3 linked regions of the Homo sapiens genome follow. The protein of the gene in region 2 interacts with the protein of the main gene of each other region in a pairwise test. Each region holds a gene or a part of one and is shown on either strand. Other genes may lie near its edges.

Region 1 (7,884 bases), on a different chromosome or scaffold from region 2:
TATATGGAGTTCTGGGGAAATATTTCTCAAATGAAGCCGGCCGGGCCGGATGGCTCCCACTTGTAATACCGGCACTTTGGGAGGTGGAAGTGGGAGGATCCAGGAGGATCTAGGAGTTCAAGACCAGCCTGGTCAACAGAGCAAAGCCCTGCCTGTTTCTATATTTGAAAAAAAATAAGTAAATTTTTTTAATGAAATGATATTTGAGCACTCTGGAGCACCATACAAATATAGGACAGACTGAAGGAATGTACCTGGCTTGAGTTAACATTTATTGAAATTTTATATTGCAAAAATAGTACATATTCACTGTTTTGAAACTAGAAAGAATTGATAGGCAAGGAGGGCTGTCTACAAAGCACTCCATAGATCCACCATACTGAGACAATGCTTAATGCTTTGATGGATTTATTGTATACTATCTATGCATATGCATGTATTATATACATACATGTGCATGGTTAAATAGAAATATTTCTCCTTGGTGTTAATCCATTTATTGTTATGCAGTAAATCCCCAAAGAGCACATTTGCTTTGCCCAAGGGAGTCTTTTGCTACATACTGCTGTACATAATGAAAACTAAAAAATTGGCTAACTTTTCAGCCTTGTGACCTTGTGGTGATTCAAATAGAGGCTTCATCAAAGGCAGATTCAGAAATGAACTTGGTATGTGGGTGGTTATGCTTGGCATTATTGTTTGTAATAGTATGATAGGGATGACTTCAGTGTCCACCAACAGGGAACTGGTTAAGTAAACTGTGGTACATCCAAACGATGAATACTGTGCGGTTGTAAAGAAGAATGACAAAGACCTCTGTACTCATGTAGAAGAACTCACATATATTGTGTGTGTTTTAAGAGGAACAAGGAATGGTATAGTATGTATGGTATGCTACTTTTTGTGTTGAGAGAGAAGAGTAGAATAAGAATATACGTGTGTATTTGCAAACATAAATTCTGAAATGATATATAAGAAACCAATTAAAAGTGTTTGGCTGTAGAAGGAGAATAAGACTGTGAATGGGATTTGGCCACATACTTTTATAGGTAGTTATATTTAAAAATTTTCTGAACCATGTGTTTGTACACATGACCTTTTTAAAAATAAGTGAATGAAGGAATGAAGTAGGATTATGAGAAAGAGATAAGAACAAATGATCTAAGGGGCTGCCCATCTTTTTAGTACCCAGTGAATATTAATATATAACAATAGCAGCAAAAATTGGAAGAGTAGCCCCAGGAGGGTAGGGAGTCAGCCTTTCCTTTGTCTTTTCCTCAATTTCATATATTAAACAAAATAATCTGAGAACGATAAAACAATTTGAAATAAAAAATGTCTCCAGATCTCTTAAAAGGAAGCTGGGGCAGCTTTCTGTAGCGCACTTCCCAAAAATGGGCTGATTTACCTCAAGAGGCAGGGATTCTAGCCTACATGGGATACATACAGGAGAAAACAAAATCAGAAAAAGAAAAGATATTTAAATATAAATAAATGAAAATAACAATTCTCCCTCATTATAAAGGAAATCATTCTTTTTGTAATAATTTGGATGACAAATATTAAGAAAAATCTTTAATTTGCCACTCAAAACATTGTGGTTTGTTGCTTTTTATACGTTTTTATGCACATAAACCTTTTAAAAAGTAGAATCGTAGTATGTAGTCTTTTGTCACTTACTATATTTTGGGCATATTTCTGTGGCAGTAAATATATCCTGGCATCATCATTTTTAATAGCTGGATGTATATTAAGTTAATCACTGCCACCCCAGAGGTGAATTTTCTTATACACACATTTTAATGGGCTCGAGCAAACATTTTTGGACTGAATTCATAGAAGTAGAATTTCTGGAGGAAAATAATTTTTAGGGTTTTTAATAGAAATTTTCAAATCATTCTCCAGGAAAAGTGACTCAGGTTATACTCCCACCAACAAGGACAGAGCTCCAGGTTCCCCTTTCCATTTGTCATCTTTCCTGCCTTTATACAGAAAATCTCATTGTTTTCATGACATTTCTTTGATTTCTTGTGCTTTTGAATCTTTGTATATGCCACTGGCCATTTTTATTCTTGTGAGAAGTGCCAGTTTCTCCATTGCCCATTTTCGGTTGAAAATCATTTGTTTTTTTTTCTCAGTAATTTTAAAGATTTCTTTATAGTCTAAGGATACAAGCCTTTTATCTGTCATTGAGGTGACAAAACTTTCTCCCAGTAAGTAATTTGTCATTTCATTTTTTCTTCTTTTCTTTTTCCTTTCCTTTCCCTTTCTTTCTTTTCCTTGTTTCTTTCTTTCTTCTTCTTCCTTCCTTGCTTTCCTTTTCTTTCTTGCTTTCCATTCTTACTTTCTTTTCTTTTCCCTCCCTCCCTCCCTCTCTTTCTTTCCTCTTTCTTTTTCTTTCTCTCTTTTTCTTTCTTCTTTCCCTCTCTCTCTTTCTTCCTTTCCTTTCTTTCTCTTTATTCCCTCCCTCCCTCCTTCTTCCCTTTTTTTTCTTTCTTTCTTTCACTAGCCAAGCTCCAAAGTCACATTTCACTTAATTTTTATCCTGCCAAATTTGAAAGCCTTTTAACTTCGTGATTTTAGTGTAAACAGGAGCAGGAGAAAATGTAATTATCTAAGTCTCGCTGTGTCACCCAGACTGGAGTGCAGTGCCATAATCATAGCTACTGCAGCCTTGAACTCCTCGCCTCAAGCAATTTTCCCACCTCAGCCTGCCAAGTAGCTAGGACTACAGCTGTGTGCCACCACACCCAGCTAATGTTCAAAAATTTTTGTGGAGATGTGAATTCTTTATGCTGCCCAGGCTAGTCTTGAACTCCTGACTTCAAGTAATCCTCCCACCTCGGCTTGCCAAAGTGCTGGGATTACAGGTGTCAGCTCCTGCTCCTGACTGAGAGTTTAGTTTTGTTTGCTAGTGGTGTTCTTGGTATCTTTTCATATTTGAGGTTTTGGGCTAGTGCTGAAGTATTACACTCACCATTCGAGGTCTACAGGACTTTTGGTTTAATATTGAACAGATGGAACTGTTTAGTTCTGCATCTTTGCAGGTATACAGAATGTGCCTACCAGGAATCTGCTTTATATCCATTGAAAGCAAGAAATAATACAGTAAAACTTTGCCTGGCTAGAGGCTTTGAAAGAATGGCGTATTCTGGTTTAATTCTATTACTTTGGAAGTATAAAGGTGAAAAAAATTCAAAACTTAAATTTCCTGTTGAATGCAATTTGAAAATATAGCCAATGATTCCACTTTTCTTCTCTAGTAAGGTTGGACATTCTGATCTACTTGGTGTTTTATTATAGAACTGCTAGTGTGCGTGAGTCTTACATTGTGAAGATACTTTTTTAAAACTTGAGATGTAAGAGGATGTAAACGGTTTTGTAGGAGATCAGGCTGGATGAGAACGGACACTTGTAAACATACTTTTTAGACTAAATCTCTGATTGCCGCTTGTTTTTCTTATGGAACTCATACAAATAAAACACATTGGATGGAGGGTGCGAGTAGGAAGGAGATTCTTGTCTTTTAATTGCATGTCATTGTTTCATAACAAGGCAGAACATATGGTAACCCTGGCTTTGGACCTACAGAAGGAAACACATTTTTCTACCTGCTGTATGCCAGAGGTTCTTGAACACTTGGAGGGATTACTGCAGCACAGATTGCTGAACCCTACTCCAGAGTTTCTGATTCACCAGGTCCAGGGTGGGGCCTGAGAATTTGCACTTATAAAAAGGTCTCAGGTGCTGCTGGTGCTGCTAGTCCATAGACTACATTTTGAGAACCACTCTTGTCTATTAAGTGTAAATTGTAGAACTCTAGAAAAAAGCTTAGTTCAGTCTGGGATAAGAAGCACACAGGTTATGGAGAAAAATCATGAAAGATTCAACCCTTGATCCCAGCCTAGTGTGGATTTCAGGTAACAAGCAGTACACAGTGACATAACACAATTCTTGGTTTTCATGATTGCAAGTCATAGCCAGGTATCAAGTGAGAAATTCAGTTTCATTTGCAAGGCCTAGAGTGGCCTGGTGATTCTAGAAAAATGGGCCTTGTATTTGTTTTAAACCAGTAAAGAGCTTTAAGTGCTTATTAAATTGTAAGTTTTGTGTTCCTACTTATTTTGTATCTTATTTTATTTTATTTTATTTCTTTTGAGATGGAGTCTTGCTCTGTCACCCAGGCTGGAGTGCAGTGGCATGAGCTTGGCTCACTGCAACCTCCATCTCCTGGGTTCAAGTGATTCTCCTGCCTCAGCCTCCCAAATAGCTGGGATTACAAGCACCCACCACCACACCTGGTTAGTTTTTGTATTTTTAGTAGAGACAGGGTTTCTTCATGTTGGCCAGGCTGGTCTCGAACTCCTGACCTCAGGTCATCCACCCACCTCGGCCTCCCAAAGTGATGGCATTACAGGGGTGAGCCACCGCACCTGGCCCAAAAGCTTTGTGTTTTTAAAGATATTAGACATGTTTCTTGTTTTTAAAAGAAATCTTAACAATAATGTAGGAGAATAAGACAAACATTTTTCCAAAAAAGAGAAATTGTTGTGATTATTCTCTGTTATTGGAATGTCGGATACTATAGTCAGCTTCATTAATCATCAAGAATGCTATGGATTTTCCATTTTTATAGGGTCTATATCTCAGTTAAGGTAATACTTGTAATTCTTGTGCTCCATTTGAAGATGAAAAATATAGGCCAAAATCATAGACTTTGCATAGAAGCTGCATAATGAAGACAGCTCTGGAGGAACACATAGATACACACAGACACACATATATAAAGTATATACACATATATTTTTTAAAGTTTATTTTTAACAGTTTTAAAGCTTTTAAAGCAAAAGCCAGCCCCTCCCCTCTCCCAGAGTGGGCGGCCTCTCCCCTCTCTCTGAGTGGGCGGGGACAGCGGTTGCATGGGCAGCTTTCCTTATGATGCTACAGGTCCCTCTGGACATGCTGCGCCTGGCCACGCCTCCTTTCCCTTTCATCTTTCTCACTGACCAATGGGCTTGGAACATTAAGGCCACGCCCCTATTCTGCGTTCCATTGGTGCCCTGGTTACGCCACCTGTGGCTCAGTTGCACAGCTGCCTGGTAGGTGACTGGAGGCATTGAGCAGTGCTCACTGGTATTTCGCTGATGTGGCCCCAACCCCGCCTCCCTCCCCACCCCGCGATGTCAGAAAAAACACAACAGGGGAAATTGGCCGCAGCCAAGAAAAAGGTAAAACACACCAGGTCATGGCCCCCAACCCAGCCACAGATCCCCTCCGATGACAAGACCGGTGCCAGAGTCCATACCACTCCTGAGGCATACCAGATGGGGCCCCCCAACCCCAGCCCCTCTGGGCTCCCCCAACCAAAGCCTAGTCAGTCAGCCCCACCCCTTCAGCAAGCAGCCCAGTCCCTGCCCTTGCCAATCACCCCAGGGTGACTTTGGGCAGGTGACTCCTGGGGCTCCCTGCTCCATAATCAGCCCTCACCTCCTGCCACCCCAAGCCCAACCTCCCTGGGCTCTTTGGGCTTGCGTCTCCCAGGACCTGGGTCCCCCAGCCCCAGGCCCTGCCCTCACCAGTCATCCCTGGGTGGCTTTGGGCTGGTGACTCCCGGGGCTCCCTACTGCAGACTCTGCCCTCCCCTCCTGCTGCCCCAAGCTCGACCTCCCTAGGCTTCTTGGGCTGGCGTCTCTGAGGACCTGGGTCGAAACCGTGTGTTTCCCTCCCCCATCGTGGAGCAGCGACTCGGGCATCGCGCTGATGTGGTCCCCTCCCCTGGGAGGAGTGGAATGCAATGATGTCACAGTGCCCCTAGGAACTGTCATTACTGCTGCAAGACCGGCCTTTGATCTTACAACCCAGTCCCCTAAGTTTTCTCACCCCATTTCTGGTTCCTCTGGTTGCAGCACAAATTTCCAGCTGGAAGGGGAGTGGAGACTATGGGACCTAGGAGCAAGAGGTTTCAGGCTGCCTTACTCCCTTAACATAGACATTGACAGTGGGAAAAGCCTACACTTCCCCTGTGAGCTCAAAATGTTCACAGTATCTCTGGGTGGCAATGGGAGAATGGGTTTGGTTTGGTTTTTTCCCAGGCTTCTACTTTCCAGAGAGACTTTAACATTTTTTTCTGAGTTCTCCACGGTTCTGGGACCAGACTGCCCTTCAGTCAGTGGCCTCTGAAGTGAGATTTGCTCATCTTCTGTGGAATAGATCTTGGGAAACTGAACTTGACAGCTTGAATCTTCCTCATATCGTCTCAACCTGGGGTACTTTGAGTGCCACAGGATAAATGCGGGACATCTTTCTGAAGCATCATTTTCCCTTGATTCTCTTGAGAAAATGCATTAATGTACTTAGGGATGACAGACACATAGGTTTCCAAGCGTATACCAGACTTCGCTCTGAAATGAGGCTTGGGTTGTCCTCTTTCTGATAAATTCCCAGATTTAATAGAAAAGCTGCCTTCTGCCATGAGGACACATTGATATGAAAGTGTGAGAGGTACTGGTACGCTTCTTCACGCTAGCAGACCTGTGAGGATGTATGACTCTAAACCACACGGCCTACAGTTCCTGCCTGCTTAATGTGTGCTTTTCTACCTCTGCCCCTGGTTTTGGTCCCTGGAAGCTGCTGATTCATGGCAAAACCCCAGAGCTTGGAGTCAGAGGACTGAGTTTAAGTTCCAGTATTGCCTTTTTTGATCTTTCTTTTTTTTTTTTTCTATCCATGATATCAATCCCTCTCAGTCACTAAGTGATTGTGACAACACCTTGTACAGTTGTTGGTGGCATTACATCAGATGGTATATAAGGGTATTTTGTCAAAACTGTAAAGGAGGATGTGGCTGTAGGGGCTGATCATTCTCATGAGTGTTACTGCTCTTCTTTCCCACAGTTAAAAGCATATTGGCAGAGGAAGAGCCCTGGCATTCCAGCAGGAGCTAACAGGAAAAAGAAAATCAATGGCAGTAGCCCTGACACATTCACTTCTGGTGGTTACCACTCACCTGGGGATGTGAGTCTCGGCGGGCCAGGCTCCTGGGGACAGGGAGCCCAAGGGGCAGTAGAGGGTAATTGTTAAGATTGTAGATGGACTGTTGGGTACTGGTTAAGAATTCTGGATTTGAATCCTGCCTCTCCGTCTGCTAAGAATTGATTAGGGATTGATTAGCATATGATTTAGGGCAAGTTGCTTGAGGTCTTTGGGCCTCTCTTTTCACATCTGTATAATAGAGGTGGTATTTTTTGACTTCCATTTGTGAAGTTTAAATGAGATTCGTTATTGTTGCTTTTATGTGAATCCTTAGTACATGGCCTGCTGCAAACACCCAGGACACCGAGGAAATGGTCGTTGCTGTTTGATTTTCCTCATCCCCAGTCTCAAGGGGAAGCCAGGCCAATGAGAAGAGCCACTTGCCATCAGGCTGTCCCTTTAGGAGTCACTGAAAGGGCCCCAGGGTGGGATGGTGGGGAGATAAGAACCACGAGAGAAGTTGGCACAAAGGAGTTATGGGAAAAAGGTTCCAAGATAGGCAGAAAAGAAGCTTTTGCCAGTTGATGGGGGAAGAAAGGAAGTCAGAGGGCTTAGACAGTGAGGGGGGACAGAACATCTCCATGTGCACTCTCATCTCTTGGAGTCAGCAACAGGTATCTACGGGGAGGGCCGTGCATCCTCTACTACCCTGCAGGATCTGGAGGTAAGAGGCCCTGGGCCGAGGTGCAGTGACCCTGCAGGCCAGCCCTCCAACCTCCTCCCACAGCAGGGGCTTGTTGCCCCTCTGCCAGCTGAGGCAGCCCACACACCCCCACCAGCCCTAATGATTATTCTCTCTACCCCTCCCCACAATCTTTCTCCAACTCCTTCTCTCTGCATGCACCTCAGAGC
Region 2 (7,848 bases):
GTAGTTGGCAGAACTCATGAGGAGGAGACCAGATCAGGAGGGACCACAAGGACAGGAGAATTAGCAACGAGAGACTGGCTGGCACCAGTCTTGGGAAAACTTCAGAGTGAGCTCCATTCATGGTCTATTAAAAGGCCTTTGTTGTCATTCAGTGATATGTGCCTGGCCCCTGAGACTTTAATTCAACACTAGCCAAACTATCTCATTTGGATAACCCCCTTTTCAAAGTTCAAAAGACTGATTAGCCCCCACAGAACTGAAGGTGAGGAAATGGGGTTCTAGAATCTGGCAGGGCAGTGTGATGTGGAAGGGCACATTTACCCTTCCACAGGATGTGACATGGCTGATACTGGACCACACCACCTTGAGATTTTCGCCAAAGGGTGTTGTGGCATATTGGTGATAGACATGCTGTTACATGTGCGTATTTCCATTTTTAGAACAAACTATACCACATGATACACATGGATTGACACCTTGCTCTTTTCAATTAATACATCCTGGAGATGTTTTATATCAATACATATGAATCTTTCTTTCTTTTAGATAATCTTGTAGTATTCCATTATATGAAAGCACCGTATTTTGTTGGATGGTTAAGATGTTTTTCTGTATTTTACTGTCACAGAGTACTATATTGAAAGCCTCTGTGGATATGTGACAGTATATTTGTAGCATATTCAACTAAAAATAGATGAATATTAGGTCAAAAAGAATCCTTTTGGTCATCTAGAAATGCTAACCTCAAAATAGAATTATTGAAACAAAGGGAAAATATCAGGTGCTTTCTATGTATTAGGCACTATGGCTGGTACTGAGGATAAACCAAGAAACAAGTTAGACTTGCTCCTTGCCATCATAGAATTTTACATTTTACTGGGGGAGACAGACTTATAAAAGCCAACAGGCAAAAATTACAAATTACAGTATGATGTGAAAAAAGTAACGGGCTAGAGACAGAATTGGGGGGAACTTTTTTGATATAGTGGTCAAGGAAAGACTAAGAATGCCAGATTTAAGCTGTGTGTGCTTTTAAATTTTAGTAGATATTGCAACACCACCTTCTATGTTTACACACTCACCAACATCATCACCAATATTGTATTTTCAAACCTTTTGATCTTTCCCAATCTAAGGTGAAAATGGCATTTTATTTGTATTTATTATTAAAAGTAAGATAGAGCATCCTTTCATAGATGTATTTACGAGTCTTTTGAAATTCTTTTGTGTGTATGTGAACTGCTCCTCTGATAACCTTTGTCCACTCTTCTATAGCGTTGTTGGTCTTTTTTCTTAACTGGTCATAAAAACTCTTTAATAAATTAGATCTTTATCAAATATCTTGCAAATATATCTCCGTGTTATTTACCTTTGACTTGTTTTTCTGAGAGACACTTGACTGTAATGCCCGTTAAAGCCTAAAAAGGTTTTCTAACAGTGGCCAAACAAATATCTTTATCTTTCTCGCTTGGAAGAAGATGCAGCTGAGAAACTGACTTCTAAGTAAGCCAAGGTAAGATCGGTGAGCTTCTTTCCCAGAAAGATAAAATACACACCATGCAACAAATAGTATGTCTAATGCCTACAGTGGAATACTCATGATAGCTTTTTTGCTGTAGTTATGCTTAACTTGCCATTTAATGTTGCTATTAGAGAGGGACTTGGCCAATAAATCTGCCTTAAAAGAGATTTCAAGAGTTGGAATATGACTGCAGATCACTGTTGTCTCAGGGGAGCTAATAAAAAGGGTTACAACTTTTCCTTTGAAGTAGTTTTGCCCAGAGTATGTAGCTATGGATTGTGAAATAGAAGAAAAACAGTATAACGAAAATTTTGTATTACGTTTACATTTCAAGAAACCATCAGAATCACTTTATTATTTCACTCTGCTCAAGCAGGAAGTTGAACAGATCAAATAACTTGTCTTAGCCACTAGAGTTACACTGAGTTTTATTCAGTGCTGAGAAACAGCCTAAGAAAGCAAACTAGTGAGGCTGTGCTGATTTACAATTGATACATTTTATGAAATAGCATTAATGTTCTCACAGACCATCATTATATGACTTTGTGGAATTATCAAAAGTAGTGTTTCACAAAATATAAAAATCTCCCACTGGCATAAGGGGTCTAATGTGTATTTCATGTTTGTTTGTTTTAAAGTTCTGTAGCACAAGGGAAGGTGTTTCTTAACCTTAGCCACCAGCAATTTAGGGAGTAAGAAATCATACATTTAGCAAAATTGCTCTTTTTATTCTTAGCCTAACGAATTCAGCTAGACTTTAATCTGAATTTATGGGGGATATGTCTAAGATTTCACCATCAAATATAAGGGAGGTTTTTGGTATATTTGAGATGTATTTATTTTTGCCTTATAAAGGAATCATCCATCTATTTATTTTTTATTAGGAGTTTCTGCTTTTAGTCAGAAATATATGTTGAGTTTTATGAAATGACATTGTAGCATTTGTGGAGATTATATGATTTTTCTTTATCAGCCTAATATGGGTGACTTAAAGTTATAGGTTCCTAATATTAAGCTATAAATTTGTTAGATTCATTTGTAGGCTTTGATTGTTTAGAACGATCACTGGACAAATAACTTATTTTAAAACTCAGAGTAATGAATGAGACCTTGCTGTATACGTATAAGAAGCAGAGAGAAGAGCAGGAAGCATCATTACCAGAAGATAAGAACTGTAAATCTTATGCTGGAGCATGGTGACATGACTCATAATGCGATAGCATCTCTACTGATAATATGGAAAAGAAAGTTCTTATCTTGAATATCGTATGAATGGACCTGGCAGAAACATGATCACTATAGTTTACAAAAATAAGGATAATCCTGGAAAATGAAAACCTCAAGTTTGAAAATTGATTTGTATTTTAGTATTTTGTCTCTCCTGGTGATAACAGTGTTTTGAGTTATTCTCACCTTATCTACCCCTACCCCTCCCAAAAGGTACAAACAGACTGTTTAAATGAAAAATGCACACCTTGAAAATTTAAAAAAACTCTTCTTTGTCTAGCTACTTTAAAGGTTTTGATTTTCATGGGATATCCAGTGCAATGGCAATAATCTCAGCCTTGACAATAAAAGTGACAGATTTAAGAAACTAGTCATAGTAGGGAATTTTAGAGGGGGAGTAAATAGGATATAGTATTTACTTTCTATTTAAATTAAATTTTCTTTATGTTTATCCCTTATATAATTTTTGAAAAGGTCCTTTTCTAGATATTAAAAAATAAGATATATGAGTTTTCCTCTCAAGAAAGAATATTGACTTCTAATTAGTAACACATATTGACTAGATTTGTTGGCCTTATGAAAAGTTTTAAAGTAAACATATTTAATTTTTACTTTAAAAATATGCTTTCAAAGATACATTCAGACACTTAAGAAGAAAAGATAACTGCTTGTGATAATGAAACTGGTTGTTTTTTTTCTGTTATGATAATTTCAATGCTTGAAACACTGAATAAATTACACGTCAGTACAATGTTTTGTATATTTAATGATATTTCAAAGCTTCTGTCAACTGATCAGTTAAACACAAAAGTTTGTTCAGATTTTTTAAAGGTTTTTTTTTCTTTCTTCCAACTTTTGTTTTAGGTTCAGTGGGTACATGTGCAGGTATGTTACATGAATAAAGTGCATACTGCTGGGGTTTGGTGTACAAATGATTTTGTCACCAAAGTGGTAGCATAGTACCTTATAGGTAACTTTTCAATCTTCACCTTCCTCTCACCCTCCACCCTCAAGAAGTCCTTGTGTCTGTTGTTCCCATTTGTGTTCATGTTTACTGAATGTTTAGCACCCACTTATAAGTAAGAACATGCAGTATTTGGTTTTCTGTTCCTGTGTTAATTGGCTTAGGATAAATGGCCTCCAGCTGCATCCATGTTGCTGCAAAGGACATGATCTCATTCTTTTAGCTGCATGATATTCCATGGTGTTATGTACCACATTTTCTTTTTCCAGTCCACCACTGATGGGCATCTAGGTTGATTCCATGTTTCTGCTATTGTGAAAAGTGCTGTGATGAACATACACATGCATGGTCTTTATGGTAGAACAGTATATTCCTCTGGGTATATACCCAATAATGGAATTGCTGGGTCAAATGAGAGCTCTGTTTTAAGTTCCTTAAGAAATTTCCAAATTGCTTTCCACAGTGGCAGAACTAATTTACATTCCCACTAGCAATGTATAAGCATTCAAAGAGTTTATCTTATTCAAAAACTATAAAAACCCAGTTTGTGATACTGTGGGCAAGAGAGACTATTTCTGTTCTCTGTTGTAGAATTTATTTTGATAAAGTGATATCTGTTGCTTTTATTCCCCCTGAAACTTACATTGATTGCAAAGTGTTGTTGATTTATTTTCTCTCACAGTAATAGCCCTAATTTCTTCTTACCTTAAACCTTTCAATCCAAACGTATGTCCATTGTTTAGTTTAATTTTCGAAATACTTTGACAATTATTTTTGCCATTGTGTTTGATGAATTTCTAAATTGCGAAAAATGGCGAAGTATGTGTGTTTTATTTATGTGAGCAAAGTGAAAATGTTGGCTGTTTGTGATAACACTCAACGGAGCTGGCCTGTTTTTACATGAATAAAATAAACATCCACTTTAAAATGAGAAAACAAAAACAAAAACAGAAACAAAAAAAAAACCCCAACAATCTTAGCTCACAACGAAATGACCCTCCCAGCCGTCCTCAGCAGGCAGCACCCATGTTAGTCTCCTTCTGCGATGCCTAAGCGGCAGCACCATCGAGCCAAGGTCCTCCAGCGTTCCTAGAGCGGAGAAGAAAGCGCTCCGAAGAGCTAGAGCTGACACTCGGCGATGAGCTAAGACGCTGTTTCAGAGCGTTTGGGTCCTCTGAGGCCCCTTGACCAGGTGAGCGGACCCTGGAGCTGGGCCCCGGGCTGGGGCGGAACTGCGGCCTAGGGGCCTAGGGAGCAGCTGCTTCCCGGCGGGTGCAGAGAATCTTCCCTCGACCGAGGGGGCGGGGTCCGTAGCGGAGGTGTCGGCCCTGGGGCCTATGAGAGTGATGAAGCTGTGGATCTGGTAAACAGAGTACAACCTTCTGCTGCATATTTTTCATCCATTCAGCGCAATTTTAAGTAGATATTAAAGGTAGGCGCCACCGAGAAGGTAATATTTGAGCAGAAATCTGAAGGAGGTGGGTGGAAAGACCTAAGTGGCTTTTGCGGTCAGGAACTTTCTAGGTAGAGGGAATAGCAAGTGCAAAGGTCTTAAAGCAGGAGCTTGCTTGGCATATTTGAGGAATAACGGGGAGACCAGAGCGGTTGGAGCAGTGAACAAAGGCGACCTTTGTAGGGAATGATGTCAGAGAGATTGGGGTATGGAGAGGAAGAGTGTAGAGGAAATGAGAACTGTATCGTGTAAGGAATTTTGTCTTTTTTTGGTGTGTGTTTTTGGAGGATTTTGAGCAGAAGAAAACATGATCTGACTTATGTTTTAAAGCTTCTTTACTTGGAGACTCATGATGATAATAGATTGTAAGTGGGCAAGAATGGAATCAAGAAAACTTAAAAGTTAAGAGTAATTTTTTAAAATTCCAAGTAATTCAGGTGGGAGATAAGGATATCTTGAGCCAGTGATCAGATTATGATCTGCTTTGAAAATAGAGACAATAATATTTGCTACTGGGTCAGATGTAGGGTGTGACAGTAAGAAGGCAAATATAAATCCAAGGTTTTGGGCCTGTGGGTGCAAGAGATACTGGAGAAAAGATCTGAGGTTTAGCTTTGGTACCTCGTGTAAGTTCTTCAACTCTCCCCGTCTCAATTTCCTTCTCTGCACGAAGAAATTAGGAATAGTGTCTTCTTTATAGGGTTGTGTGAGGGTTAAATAATTAATATATGTGAAACATGTAGTATAGTTGTCCTGGCTCATTGTTTTATTATGCTGAGACATGAAGTGTGAGTGGGCATTAACAAGAAGAAAATTGGAGGGTTGGAGGGTGGTCCAAGCAGAAGGAATAAGCTGTGGAAGGGCCAAGGAGCAAGAAGGAGTATTGCAAATTTGATGAAATAAAGTACTTTATTAGATCAAAAAACAATGTAAACCATATTAAATGTTTTGAACTTGATCCTAAGGGTAATAATCAGCCATTATATGTAACAGGCATAGCAGGGACATAATAATATTTCATATCCTCCTTAGAATGATCACTGTTTGCGTGTGGAAAATAGATTGGTGTCTCAGACCAGTCTGTTTGTCACAGTGGTCTAGGTAGGAGAAGACAATGGCAAAGGGGATGAGAAGTGGATTGATTTGAGAGATATTTAAGCAATAGAATCAATAGAACTTGATTGATCAGATACATGAGATATGAAAGGAGGAAGGAATGGTCAGTTTTCTGGCTCAAATAGCTGGGTAGATGGAGCTCCTCCCAAAACAGTTTATCAAATTATTTATTATATATTGTGTTTGATATATTTAATCACATTATAGAAATGAACTCACCACTAATTCAGCCTCATACCCAGCCAGGCACGGTGGCTCATGCCTGTAATCCCAGCACTTCGGGAGGCTGAGGACGGTGGATCACTTGAGGTCAGGAATTCGAGACCAGCTTGGCCAACATGGTGAAACACTGTCTCTGCTAAAATTACAAAAATTAGCTGGGTGTCATGGCAGGCATTTGTAATCCCAGCTATTCGGGAGGCTGAGGGAGGAGAATCACTTGAACCCGGGAGGCGGAGGTTGCAGTAAGCCAAGATTGCGCTGCTGTACTCCAGCCTGGGCAACAGAGGCAGACTCCATTTCAAAGAAAAAAAAAAAACACATCATACCCTATATATACATATCAACATCATACCACATGTTTATTTATATACCAATACTGATATAGATACCAGTATATATATATGTATGTGGCATAGATATATACTGATATGGGTATAGATATCTCTATAGATATAATAATATGAATACAGGTATATATAAAAAATACGAATACAGGTATATATACCTAAACAATAATACGAATTATGTATATATATACATATGCCTGTATTTGTGTCATTATTTGTATAACTAGGGTATCTATATCGGTAAAGATAGGTAGAGATCTAGAAAGAGATTTACTATAGGGAATTAGCATAGGTCATTATGGAGGCTGGCAAGTCTCAGTATCTTCAGAGTGAGTTTTCAGGCTGGAGACCCAGGAGAGCAAATGGTTTAGTTCCAGCTCAAGCCCAAAGGCCTGAGAACCAGGAGAGCTGATGGTGTAGTTCCTGTCTGAAGGCCATAGGCTTGAGATTCAGTAAGAGCTGTTTTAGTTCCAAGTCTGATGGCAAGAAAAAAGCTGATGATTCAGTTTGAAGCATTTTAGACAGGAAGAATTCTCTTACTCAGGGATGAGTCAGCCTTTTTGTTCTAGTCAGACTTTTAACTGCTTGGATGAGGCCCACCAACATTATGGAGGGCAGTCTGTTTTAGTCAACAGTCTACCAATTTAAATGTTAATCTCATTCCAAAAACACCCTCACAGAAACATCCAGAATAATGTTTGACCAAATATCTGAGCACCCTGTGGCCAGTTAAGTTGACACATAAAATTAACCATTACAATACCAATCTTTTATTTTCTGGCTAATAATCATCACTTTTTTTGAGACAGAGTCTCACTCTGTCGCCCAGGCTGGAGTGCAGTGGTGTGATCTCAGCTCACTGCAACCTCCACCTCCTGGGTTCAAGTGATTCTCCTGCCTTAGCCTCCCGAGTAGCTAGGACTACAGGCGTGTGCCACCACACCCGGCTCATTTTTTGTATTTTTAGTAGACACGGGGTTTCACTGATAATCATCAC
Region 3 (4,139 bases), on a different chromosome or scaffold from region 2:
CTTGCTGATCTCGCTGAAATAGCTGCCACTCCCACAGACCCTGCAAAACCACCACAGGGAACCTGCGAACCCAGCTGTCTCCCTTGTGATGGTGCCAGACACCTGTGGGACACTTCGAGGTCCAGCTGGCTAAACCGGCTGCAGCCCAAACTGAAGGCCATCGGGATGGGGGGAGCAAGCACTTTCAGGTTGAAATGAGTGAATGACCTTTTATGTCCTCCTTCCAGCCAACTCCAGCGCACCCGGCCTTGCAGAGCAGAGGCACTGAGCTCCCAAGTCCAGGGGAGGGGCTGCTCAAGCCCCCAGGCTGGAGGGGTGGGCGCAGGGACCTGGGACCTGCGGAGTCAGGGGAGAGGGGGTCTCTACAAGACTTCTCTCACGGACCATCACCCAACCCCGGCACACACAGAAAAGGGGTCCAGCCTGCAAACGCCACCCCCCTTGCCTCCCTGCCTGGGATCCCCAGCCTGAGAGGGACAGGTCTCCAGTTACATCAAGTAGATATCGCAGAAAGTCCCTCAAGTTTATTTTAATAGGCTTTAAACACAAATATGCAACACAAACTGTAGGGGCAGGAAAAGGGATGTTGTGACCCCATTCATTCAACTAATCACGGCCAGGGCTGCCCCCACCCCCATCCATTCTGACATCCAGCCAGAACCTTGTCCCAGCATGTGGTGGGCAGGGGCGGCGGTCGGGGGGCAGGCCGCCCACGCATCTCCCAAATGCCACGAAGAGACAGGTGGTATCTGGTGGGTCTGTCTGAGGCAGGTGCAGAGGCTGCAGCATCCGAACGTGGAAACGTCGCTCCAGCCTGGAAGGGGACAGAGGCAGACGCCACGTGGAGAGAAATCCGAATTCTGATGGTGTGGGGGGGTGGAAGAATTGAGAAGGAGGCACAGCAGCTGCCGCCCCATGTGTTTCGGGAGCGGTGATGGCTCAGATGAGGAGCCATACATGATGGGTGTCCGTAACAAAAGAAAAAAAACAAACAAACCACGAAGCCAGGGCCACGTGGAAATTAGCTCAAGTACCCAAGGTCAGGGCAGGTTAGGGCAAAGCTCTCACCGAAGTCCACCTAATGAGGAATTACTTAGTGCTAACGATGCTACAACTCTGACCACAGCAGCCTAATACACTGTACCACGTTCTAGCATCACACGGAAGTCAGTATTGCTGTGTAACTGCATTTAGCAGGTGCGGCTATGTAAGCGGTTCCTAATTCGGACAGCTAAGCTGTAACTGAATTTGTGTTTGCAGGTTGTGCCTGCTACTAGAATAAATACTTGTGTATTTAGTCAATGTGGCAAGATCTACTCTAATGGAATGCCCAACTCAATATCACAGTATCATGCAGAGCCACTAAAGCAAAGAGAAATGGTGGTGTTTCCATGTGGATTTACTGTGTACGTCCCCAGAAGGAGCAAGACCCTTGGAGGTTGGCTGGAGATGCACCTGAGGCCCGGAAGCCCAGCGTGGACTCATCCTAGGGCCAGGGACCATGTCTGCCTTCACGTTGGCAACACGTGTGCCGAGCAGGCGTGCCCTGGACAAGCCGACCCCGTCCGCGGGCTGTTTTCTTCCCCGTTCCATGGCTCCGGCCCCTGCAGGACCCCCTCATGGTTCTTCTCGCCTTGGGCACGCTCAAAGACAGGCCTGTGCTCAGGACAATTTTGGGGGGGTCTCAGGGAGAAAGTGCAGGGTCTTTGTCACATACAGGAAACAAGGGCATCATCATCATCACCATATCTGTTAAAACTACTTCTTCCTTTTGTGTATCATGCTCCTAATCTTCCACACCACTACATGAGTACTGTTCATATCCTAATTCTACCATTTTAGAGACAGATGCCAGTCCAGGAGCTGGTGCCCCCTGGCTGGCTGTTTCACTGGGCTCCTCTGTTTGGGAGAACCTTCTGGGTCTAAGATGGGAGCACGGTCAGCAGCAGCGTTGCCTGATCATCCAGCAGGAAGTGCAAGTGGGTTTCTGGGTGGTCGTGTGATGATCTAGCACAGCTCAGAACTGGTCCCCCGGGACAGAAATGGTGTTTTTTTTTTCTGGAAGCCCCTGCTAGAACCCCTGAGCCATCTCAATGTGCAGTGAAGGGGTTGAGTTGTAGAACCAAACTGAAGGGGGGCTGCTAGGAAATGGGGGCCTGAGGGTCCTATTTCAAAGAGTTGATCATTTACAGCATCGCATCAGAGTGAACCACATGGAAAGCTGGAGTGATGTTCCCCCTCTGTGCCTGGTCAAAATACAGACCTTGGCAGCAATTTCCTTCATGAGGATGGAGCGCGAATGGGCACAGTCATCTGCAAGGTCATCCTCACTCTTACTCAAAGGTCATGCTCTGCCATGTTTTCCGGAGGGTGCAACAATAGCTTAATGACCGAGTCTGAGATGCCATTTAGGAAAAAAGCAAAACTTGTGTTTACAAGACTATCAGAGATGAGTCACTGTCATGGGTAACATCTGCAAAACTGCTAAACCCCCTTAGGGTTTCCCACTGCTCTCCCTTATCCGCTCATGACAGGAGTATCAATAATTAAAACTTGCGAATGGAATAATAGTGATCTCACATCATGTTGACTGAGAAGCTGATTGTTCCAAAGGCAGTTACCGTTCACAAATAGCTGGTGTTCGTGTTAAAGAGAGTACCACTTGGTGGTGAGTTGAAAGGCGCTTCTTCTCTGTATCTTTTTTTTTTTCCTTTTTCTATTTTGGGTAGAAATATTCCTGGGAAGCTAGATAGAAATGCATTTTCATTTCCCAATAATTCTTAGGCACAAGTTAGAAAACTGCTGACCTTCACTAAAATATGTCAGCACTTCATGTTATAAAAAATGAAATTCAGAACCGCAGCATGTGTATATACGTATATCTAAATATACACACATATCGGTGCAGTACACAATGATTATTCAATGTATATTGAAAACTGAGCTTTTTGTAACTAACCTGAAATTCTGCAGTGAAAGTTCATTGCTCAAGAACAATTGCAAGTGTCTTTCTTTTGGCTCTAACTATGGTAAAACGTTTGCACATCAGACTTTACCATTTACACATTCCTAAGTGCCGACACCAGGGCAGTCTTACACGGGGATCAGAGGAGGACGCGCCTAGGATGCATTCGCAGCTACTGAGCATGCGCACAGGGCCAGCTCCGGCGGCACCGGGTCGGTGCTCCCTCAGGGTGGAGACCGGAGGACGAGAAGCCGGAGCTCCCGCAGGCCGTGTAGTGGCGTCATCTGGGTGTTGTGCTGACTCTGGCCGGAGAGGAGGGCCCCGAGGAGGAGCCGCGGTAAACGGGAGATGTGGGCGAGAGTTTAATCGGACTGGTCGGGTCCCCAGTTTGGAGCTTCCAAAGCAGCTCTTCATTGGTTCGGCTCAATCTCTTCTTCTCCTGGGTTTCCTTCTCAACATATTCCTGGAGGTTAGCATTTTCCTCCGACAGCTGTCTGCATGGGCACAATGACAAATAAGTAGCAATCATGCTAGTGGACACTGAACCTGAGGTCAGGACAATGGTGCAGGGCAAAGGGAGGAGGCCATGATGACCGCAGGGAGAACAGGGACCAGGGTGACCCAGTGACCAAGAACTTTGGTTGAATCATGATTTCCATTTGGCCCAATGACACATCTGTTCCCAGAGCCTCTCTGGCCAATACCCATCATCCCACAGGCCCTCTGCCCGGTCAGGGGAGGCACTGGCTGTCCACTGGACAGAGCAAAGGCCAGCGACTGAAAGGAGGGAAGCGGAGAGCTGGAGTGGGTATGCTGCCCGGAAGCTCCGAAAGGAGAGACAGCCGCGCAGCTGGCAATTGACAATGACAACAGCACAATAGCAGTGAAGAGCCGCGGGCCTTCCTGAGACTGCCAGGAAGCTGGGGGTGCCTTCTCCTGGCCTCCCTGCCCCAGGCTTGTGCCTCCACGATGGCAGGTGTCCTCCCCTGCTGGAAATGCTGCTCTAGGGGTCTGTGTCTGCCTGCTAGACTGGGAGCTCCGGAGGACAGAGGCCAAGGCTCTGCATGCTGAACTCCCAGCATCCAGCTGGTGCTAGGCACGTAACAGATGCTCAGTTAATGTTTGCCGATAAAGGCTGGTGGGTGAAAAAATGAATCCGAATTGCTTGCTTTGT

The links.
Region 1: the proteins of ZSCAN26 (region 2) and GOLGA6L9 interact in binary tests that used the Homo sapiens proteins (3 or more experiments, as listed by UniProt).
Region 3: the proteins of ZSCAN26 (region 2) and MTUS2 interact in binary tests that used the Homo sapiens proteins (3 or more experiments, as listed by UniProt).

The regions. Positions count from the first base shown.
Region 1 is NC_000015.10:82,424,936-82,432,819, forward strand, and holds the start of GOLGA6L9 (golgin subfamily A member 6-like protein 9), read left to right. Parts: upstream 1-4,880; 5' UTR 4,881-5,144; coding exon 5,145-5,228; intron 5,229-5,847; exon of another isoform or gene 5,848-5,959; intron 5,960-6,894; coding exon 6,895-7,014; exon of another isoform or gene 7,015-7,636; coding exon 7,637-7,696; exon of another isoform or gene 7,697-7,881; coding exon 7,882-7,884.
Region 2 is NC_000006.12:28,262,309-28,270,156, forward strand, and holds the start of ZSCAN26 (zinc finger and SCAN domain-containing protein 26), read left to right. Parts: upstream 1-4,834; 5' UTR 4,835-4,905; exon of another isoform or gene 4,906-5,145; intron 5,146-7,848. UniProt on the Homo sapiens protein: May be involved in transcriptional regulation.
Region 3 is NC_000013.11:29,502,313-29,506,451, reverse strand, and holds the end of MTUS2 (microtubule-associated tumor suppressor candidate 2), read right to left. Parts: intron 3,460-4,139; coding exon 3,246-3,459; 3' UTR 505-3,245; downstream 1-504. UniProt on the Homo sapiens protein: Binds microtubules. Together with MAPRE1 may target the microtubule depolymerase KIF2C to the plus-end of microtubules. May regulate the dynamics of microtubules at their growing distal tip.